Regions from separate parts of the Homo sapiens genome. Here region 1 is linked to region 2. Evidence: fine-mapped expression QTL. Tissue or cell type: nasal epithelium. Region 2 holds a variant in brackets; the other region holds the start of a gene. All regions are shown on one strand. Distances are between the middles of the regions.

What was found. PIP is the estimated chance that this variant, and not a neighbour inherited with it, causes the effect.
Region 1: it holds the start of TMEM223, and the variant in region 2 is fine-mapped to the expression of TMEM223 in nasal epithelium (TOPMed, PIP 0.97).

The regions. Positions count from the first base shown.
Region 1 is chr11:62,790,378-62,794,377 of GRCh38, reverse strand. TMEM223 (transmembrane protein 223) reads left to right here and starts at 2,372. Exons shown (of 2, transcript NM_001080501.3): 1 at 2,372-2,699; 2 at 3,463-4,000. The coding sequence starts at 2,384. The coding sequence ends at 3,755. It overlaps TMEM179B (transmembrane protein 179B), which reads right to left. Exons shown (of 5, transcript NM_199337.3): 5 at 3,978-4,000. NXF1 (nuclear RNA export factor 1) reads left to right here. Exons shown (of 21, transcript NM_006362.5): 19 at 1-120; 20 at 1,677-1,737; 21 at 1,864-2,248. The coding sequence ends at 1,902. MIR6514 (microRNA 6514) reads left to right here and starts at 1,607; the gene lies at 1,607-1,676. RefSeq lists a silencer at 2,243-2,392 and an enhancer at 2,463-2,972.
Region 2 is chr11:62,882,396-62,886,651 of GRCh38, reverse strand. It overlaps SLC3A2 (solute carrier family 3 member 2), which reads right to left. Exons shown (of 9, transcript NM_001013251.3): 3 at 3,653-3,744; 4 at 2,127-2,195; 5 at 1,962-2,020; 6 at 1,295-1,475; 7 at 1,044-1,187. Among named protein-coding and RNA genes, the nearest start is that of SLC3A2, 3.6 kb to the right of the region's middle. The variant T/C (reference allele first, on the strand shown) is at 2,061.

The DNA of each region.
Region 1 (4,000 bases), 92 kb after region 2:
CTTCGCTATGCCTGCACCCACGCCTTCCTCCAGCCCGGTGCCCACCCTCTCTCCAGAGCAGCAGGAAATGTTGCAAGCATTCTCTACCCAGTCTGGCATGAACCTCGAGTGGTCCCAGAAGTGAGTGCGGGGCATGTGTAGGATGGGGATGCACTGAAGTAGGGCTAGTAGTAAATAATGAGGGCTCCTGACAGTTTTTTTGTTTTTTTTTTGGAGACAAGTTCTTGCGCTGTCATCCAGGCTGGAGTATAGTGGTGATCATAACTCACTGTAGCCTCTAATTCCTGGGCACAAGCTGTCCTCCCACCTCAGCCTCCAGAGTAGCTGGGCCTATAGGCATGTGCCACCTTATTTTATTTTATTATTTTTTTTTTTTGGAGGTGGAGTCTTGCTATGTTGCCCAGGCTGGAGTGCAGTGGTGCGATCTTGGCTCATTGTAACCTCTGCCTCCCGGGTTCAAGCAATTCTCCAATCTCAGCCTCCCGAGTAGCTGGGATTACAGGCACACACCACCATGCCTGGCTAATTTTTGTATTTTTTTTTTTTTTTTTTTTTTTTAGTAGAGACGGGCTTTCATCATGTTGGCCAGGCTGGTCTCGAACTCCTGACCTTGTGATCTGCCTACCTCGGCCTCCCAAAGTGCTGGGATTACAGGCATGAGGCACTGCACCCAGCCAAATTTTTATTTGCTTGTTTGTTTTGAGACAGGGTCTCACTCTGATGCCCAGGCTGGAGTACAGTGGTGTGATCACAGTTCACTGCAGCCTCAACTGCTAGGGCTCAGGTGATTCTCCCACCTCAGCCACCTGAGTAGCTGGGACTACAGGCATAGGCCACAGCACCTGGCTAATTTTTTTGTATTTCTTTGCAGAGATGGGGTTTCACCATGTTGCCCACCTAGGCCTCCCAAAGTGCTGCGGTTATAGGTGTGAGTTACTGTGCCTGGGCTCCTGAAATTTTAAAAGGCAAAACTTTTGGCTGCTTAAAAAAACCTAATAGTTGGCTGGGAGAGGTGGCTCACACCTGTAATCCCAGCACTTTGGGAGGCTGAGGCGGCCAGATCACGAGGTCAAGAGATCAAGACCATCCTGGACAACATGGTGAAATCTCGTCTCTACTAAAAATACAAAAATTAGCGGGGCTTGGCGTTCCACGCCTGTAGTCCCAACTACTCGGGAGGCTGAGGCAGGAGAATTGCTTGAACCTGGAAGGCGGAGGTTGCAGTGAGCCGAGATCACGCCACTGCACTCCAGCCTGGTGACAGAGCAAGACTCGGTCTCAAAAAAAAAAAAAAAGCAAACAGAAAAACACAAACCTGATAGTCTATAAAAAATTTGCCTGTGTATAAATTAACATAAAAAACTTTAAAGGTAAAATGGAAGTTCCTTTTCATATACTGTTCTGCAACTTAGTTTCTTTACTTACACCATGAACATCTTTCCCTACCACTGTAAAAACTATCTTGAGCTTCTTGACAGCTATTTAATATTCCTTATCTTTGAGAAGCCATTGGTAGAACATCTGGACTTTTACTAATGTCTCATTTGTATAAATAGTGCAAGGATGTATAAGAATGTACATATTTGTTGGCAAACTTGGGTGCTTTTATGGAGTGGACTTTCAGCTGGCATTTACGAGTCAGAGTTCTTACAGAGCTGCCTGTTCTTCCACTCCAGGTGCCTTCAGGACAACAACTGGGACTACACCAGATCTGCCCAGGCCTTCACTCATCTCAAGGTAAGGTCTGGAAATACAGTGGCAAAAAGACTAGGATCTCTGGGCCTCCAGGAGGTCAGGTTAGCTGAGTGGGGTTGCTGAGTGGCGAGGGTAGGCCTACCTCTACTGACCTTCATTTTTCTCCAGGCCAAGGGCGAGATCCCAGAAGTGGCATTCATGAAGTGATCGTAGTCATGCCTCAGAAGCAGTCCCCCCTGTAAATAGTCCTTGGATATTACCGTCTGGTTGTCGTCTGTCATCTCCTCCTGTCTGGCCCGAGGCCGCCCCGTGACTGTGACCGAGGGAGGGAGGGCTGCCTGATCCCTCTCCTCGCCTGCCTTCTGGAAGACTTCAGAAGATTGAGCCTCACTGGTGCCAGGAAGCCAAAGCTTACTTTGTAGAACTGACACTAAACTACCCGAAGGACTTAGGTGCTTTGTGTACTTAACCCCAGGACCTCCTTACTTTTTAATATAAAGAGTGATGTTGTATTTCGTGTTCTGCACTTTTTAATATAAAGAGTGATGTTGTATTTCGTGTTCTGCGTGCTGGATTGGTTGTCTCCTCCCAGCCCTGAGCGAGGGGGGCGGGCCCTCTAGCGGGGGCGCCCAGGGAGGGCGGAAGGCGGCTCTGCGGCAGGAAGCCCCACCCCGGAAGTCGGCTGGCCATGGCGGCGCCTTGGAGGCGATGGCCCACGGGGCTGCTAGCCGTGCTGCGGCCCCTGCTCACCTGCCGGCCCCTGCAAGGCACGACGCTGCAACGGGATGTGCTGCTCTTTGAGCATGATCGGGGCCGCTTCTTCACCATCCTCGGGCTGTTCTGCGCGGGCCAGGGCGTCTTCTGGGCTTCCATGGCTGTGGCAGCCGTGTCCCGGCCCCCGGTTCCGGTGCAGCCTCTGGATGCGGAGGTCCCAAATCGTGGCCCCTTCGACCTGCGCTCCGCGCTCTGGCGCTACGGTCTGGCCGTCGGCTGCGGCGCCATCGGTAAGACGTGGGCTGGCTTCCCACTGTGACAACGTGGGGTGGCGGGACACGACCTTCCCTATACAGGCAGGGAGAGTCAGGGACTCCCTATCCGAGAGTGGCGGGCGGGCTTTACCCCACAGAAATGTGAAACACTGGCCGGGCGCGGCGGCTCAAATGCTGGGAGGCCGGAGGCGGGCGGATCACTAGGTCAGGACATCCAGACCATCCTGGCTAACACCGTCAAACCCTGTGTCTACTAAAAATACAAAAAATTAGCTGGGCGTGGTAGCAAGCGCCTGTAGTCCCAGCTACTCGGGAGGCTGAGGCAGGAGAATCAATTGAACCTGGGAGGCGGAGGTTGCAGTGAGCCGAGATGACGCCACTGCACTCCAGCCTAAGCGACCGAGCGAGACTCCCCTCTCAAAAAAAAAAATTGGGAAACAGTGATGTCTCCGAGCGCCGTGCCCTGTCATAGCCTAGGCTGAGGGCTGCCCTTCACTCTGCGACCTTGAGCAAGGTCCTTAAAGCTCTCCATCTTCCCATTAAAATGGAAACGGACATCTATTAAGGTTGTTGGGAGGAATAACAAGATTACTGGGTATAACAGGAGCTCAGTACTGCACTCCAGCCTGGCCGGCAGAGTGAGACTCAGTCTCAAAAAAAAAAGCGCTCAGTAAATACTACTTTCATCCCACAAATTTCTTATTCAGAGGGCACTGGAAAGGTCGGTACTTAGATGCCCAGTGAAAACCCCTCACCCCAATCTCTGCCCTGCCTGCAGGAGCCCTCGTACTCGGTGCTGGTCTTCTCTTCTCTCTCCGGTCTGTGCGCTCAGTGGTGCTTCGAGCTGGAGGGCAGCAGGTGACCCTCACCACTCATGCCCCCTTTGGCTTGGGGGCCCATTTCACAGTTCCTTTGAAGCAGGTATCTTGCATGGCCCACCGGGGTGAAGTCCCTGCCATGCTACCTCTGAAAGTCAAAGGCCGACGCTTCTATTTCCTCTTGGACAAAACTGGACACTTCCCTAACACAAAACTCTTTGACAATACTGTGGGTGCCTACCGGAGCTTGTGAAGAAATGACCTCAAGTCACTCACCTCTCCAAGAGGAGGATAAAAACTGAACCTTGGGGAGCCAGGTGTGTTGGTTCACACCTGTTGTAATCCCAGCACTTTGGGAGGGTGAGGCAGGAGCACTGCTCGAGCCCAGGCTGGGCAACATAGCGAGACCTTGTCTCTATTTACAAAAAAAAAAACAAAAAAAAACGCCAATCTTAGAATGGAGTAACAACCAGGGTCACACAAGGAGGTCAAGATTCA
Region 2 (4,256 bases):
CACCACTGCAATCCAGCCAGATCAACAGAGCAAGAACCTGTCTCCAAAAAAAAAAAAGATCAGCTGGGCATGATGGCACGCACCTATCTATGGTACATATCCCAGCTACTCAGGAGGCTGAGGTGGGATGATCACTTCGGCCTGGGAGGCGGAGGCTGCAATGAACCAAGATCATGCCACTGCACTCCAGCCTGGGCGACATAGGGAAATGCTGTCTTAAAAACAAAAACAAAAAACAAACAAACAAACAAAAAAAAAAAGTCGGGGATCAACAGTAACCCTGTATCTAAAGCTAGTGAATGCCTTTGTAGTAGTATCCCTACCATGTATTTCTTTCTTTCTTTTCTTTTCTTTTTTTTTTTGGAGAAGGAGTCTCCCTCTGCCGCCCAGGCTAAAGTGCAGTGGCACAATCTCAGTTCACTGCAACCTCTGCCTCCAGGTTCAAGCGATTCTCTTGCCTCAGCCTCCCCAGTAGCTGGGACTACAGGCGTGCACCACCACACCTGGCTAATTTTTGTATTTTTAGTAGAGACTGGGTTTCACCCTGTTGGCTAGGCTGGTTTCGAACTCCTTACCTCCAGTGATCCACCCACCTTGGACTCCCAAAGTGCTAGGATTACAGGCATGAGCCACCGTGCCCAGCCACTGCCATGTACTTCTCCACTTATTTATCTGGCTCCCTCACTAAACTATGAGCTCCTGAGGGCACAGAGCCTAGCACAGTACCCACTGTCCAAAGAATAAAGGAATGAATAAATGAATGGTGGCTACCATAGCAAACATCTGCCAGGTACCAGGCATTACCATTAAAAACATGCCCTCATTTAATACTAACCACCCTTCAAGAAATGCAGTAACACAAGGGATGACCAAAATTCAGAAAGGTAAAATAATTTGCCCAAAGCCACATAGCCACTCAGCTACTGACTAAGAATCAAACGCGTTTTCACCCCAAGGCTCACGTCTATGTGCCGCCATCCCCAGAATCATCATTGTAAGATGGATAAACAACCTCCCTGTGACAGAAAGACAGCAAGCAGTACCTGTCCAGGAAGGGCAGCTGCATCCAGGCCAATCTCATCCCCGTAGCTGAAAACAGGGGTCCCTGGCAGGGTGAAGAGCATCAGCTGGTAGAGTCGGAGAAGTTGAGCCGGCAAGAAGGAAGTCAGGAGCCTTGCCTGAGACAACTACAGGGAGAGACACTCCAGTGAGCCCCATAACCCACCTCTGCCTCTGTCTCCCAACAACCCTTTCTTCTCCCATCTGCCCCCTTTCCCACCAGCATGGTACTCACACTCCAGCTGCACCAGCGATTGCCAGTGGCATTCAAATACTGTGTGACTAGGGATTTTGTATGCTCCCCAGTAGAACCAGAATCAGACAGGTATGAGCTAGTCAACAGCAAGTCTTTGTTGGATTCGAGTAGGCTCAGGATCTGCTGAAGGTCGGAGGAGTTAGTCCCCGCAATCAAGAGCCTGCAGAGGGGAGGGAGGAGTTCAAGGTTAGCACAAGAAAGAATGGGGCCAGGCGCAGTGGCTCACGCCTGTAATCCCAACACTTTGGGAGGCTGAGGCGGGTGGATCACTTGAGGTCAGGAGTTCGAGACTGGCTTGACCAACATGGAGAAACCCCGTCTCTACTAAAAATACAAAATTAGCCAGGTGTGGTGGCCCGCGTCTGTAATCCCAGCTACTTGGGATGCTGAGGCAGGAGAATCGCTTGAACCCAGGAGGCAGAGGTTGCAGTGAGCCAAGATCACGCCATCGCACCCCAGCCTGGGCAAAAAGAGCGGAACTCCATCTCAAAAAAAAAAAAAAAAAAAAAAAAAAAAAAAAAAAGCTAAAGAAAGAATAAAGGTAAAGAAAATGCTCTAGACTAGGAATCCCCCCTTCTTAGGCCTAGCACTCCACTGAGGGGTTCCCACATTGGAGCTGAGTCAGCAGAATGGCTCCTGCACCCACCTGTCTTCACTGAAGCCCTTGGTGATATTTTGCCACTCAGCCAAGAATGAGGATGCATCCTAGAAAGAAAAAAGCAGAATCAAGGACCAGAGAATATTA[T/C]GAGGCTCTAGCTGAGTCCCTCTGTTCTCGCCCAAGCTTTGTCCCTAATGTGGAAAGGGAACTCACCTTCAGATTCTCTATGTCCCGAACCTGGAACCCATCCACGCCAGCTTGCAGCCAAAACTCCAGAGCATCCTATAGGGGGCAGAAGAATAAAGGACAGACATCAGTTCTCAGGAAAAGGCTCAGAAAATTCCAGCCCACACTAAACCTCACCCACCACACACTTCCCCGGGAGCTGGGGAGAGTCCTGTGCCTTGCCTGGGTCTTCCCCACCTGCACTACAAAGGCTTAGCCTTTGGACCCCTCCAGCTCTACCCTTCCACTCATTTTCTTAGTGCTACAGCATTTTACTTCTCATTCTTGCCTCTGGCAAATCACACAGCTTCAACTTTGAAAGCCACAGAAAAGGCCCCAGAGAAAAGGTATGTCCATAAACATAACTTCGTTTAACACTTAGCATTGGAATGTTAGCATACCTATTTTAGAGATGAAGAAACAGACCCAGAGAAGCAGGGAGACGCGTCCACAGTCATAATCAGTGAGCAGCAGACAGGATCTAAAATGTCAGTCAAGATCCCCCCTCTCCCAGTTTCCTGAGGCCTGGGGAAGGTGTGAGTACAATAACTGCTCAGAGCAAGGCCAAGGATGAAAGATTGAAATTCAAAGCATAGCCCCAGGGCAGTTTAGATTTGAAAAGAGGCCAGTGCTGCTGAATGGAATCCTGGCAGTCCTGCACACACTGTGGAACTTCACCCCCATTCTCCTTTTCTTCCCTTTCTCTGGGCCATGTACTCTCTCCTCTGGTCTCCATTTCCATCTGAGGGTACCGCCCCTCATGCCAAACCATCCAAAAACATTCCCTCATCAGCAACTTTTAAAGGGTCCCCTAGTAACTGGCAAGGCCTAAACTGGATGATCCCGGGGTCCTACCCAAATGCTGGGAGTCCAGAATTCTATCTTAGAATCACAGCTACCAGCAGTGTCAGTATCTGCTTCCATTTTTGTTCTACCCATTCTGAACAGGTCAGTGTCCTAGGACCCAGACATCAGGAGCTAGGTGACATTCAAAGCCCTACTCCTAGCCTGCTGGGTACACATTTGAACCTATGGCAAATTATATACCTTGTATGGTTATACAGAGAATTAGAAAACATCTATAAAATACTTGGCATAGAGTCCCAGACACATAGGAGTACCCCAGTGCTTATAATTTCAGACTGGGCTCTATTCCAAACACATCAAACAAGAACTGGGAAACCAGTCAGGACAGGATTCTCACAGAGAAAGGGCTTCCTCTCCCAAAAGAAAGAAAAATCAAACTTCCAGACTGACTTCTGAGAAGGTCCCTTCCTGGCACTGTCTCATCCTCAGAGTCAAGGAAATAAGAAAAATAAGAGGTCAGAAAAGGAACAAGAAAAACAGGTGTGCTATTGGCCTATCCTTTGGCTATAGGAGGAGGCATTCCTCCTTGGTCCTAAGGAGCAAAGGGACCCTCAGCTGGAGTCAGGCTGGGTCTACAGGGCTTGCTGTGAAAGGACTGTCCCAGCCCCAGCATCTGACTTCCACCAGCCATCAGCTCCAACACTCACCTTCACCTTGGTGGCCACAGTGTCAACCTGAGTGGAGAACCACGAGTTCTCACCCCGGTAGTTGGGAGTAAGGTCCAGAATGACACGGATGCCTAAAACAACGGAGGAAGACGCAATCATGAGACAGTCTATGAGTTAAGGGAAAATAAGGAAATCACAAATGCAAGTCACTGAGTGTTTCCTATGTATTACTTGGTACAAAAGCTTGAATTTGAACCCGGGCAAAATTCATTCCATTGAAACAGATGTGAGCAAGGAAGGGCCTTAAGATATGGGAAGGCAGGCCAGGCGAGTTCAAAACCAGACCGGTCAACATGTTGAAAATTGTCTCTACTAAAAATAAAAAAATTATCTGGGTGTGGTGGCACACGGCTGTAGTACCAGCTACTCAGGAGGCTGAGGCACGAGAATCGCTTGAACCCTGGGGGAGGAGGCTGCAGTAAGCTGAGATCGTTCCACTGCACTGCAGCCTGGGTGACAAGAGTGAGACTCCATCTCAAAAAAAAAAAAAGATATTGGAAGGCAGAAAGTTTATAGTGCAGAGAAGTGGCCCCTGTGTTCCCCACTCCCAAAGTGAACCTTTTTAAACATGTGTCTATATCGA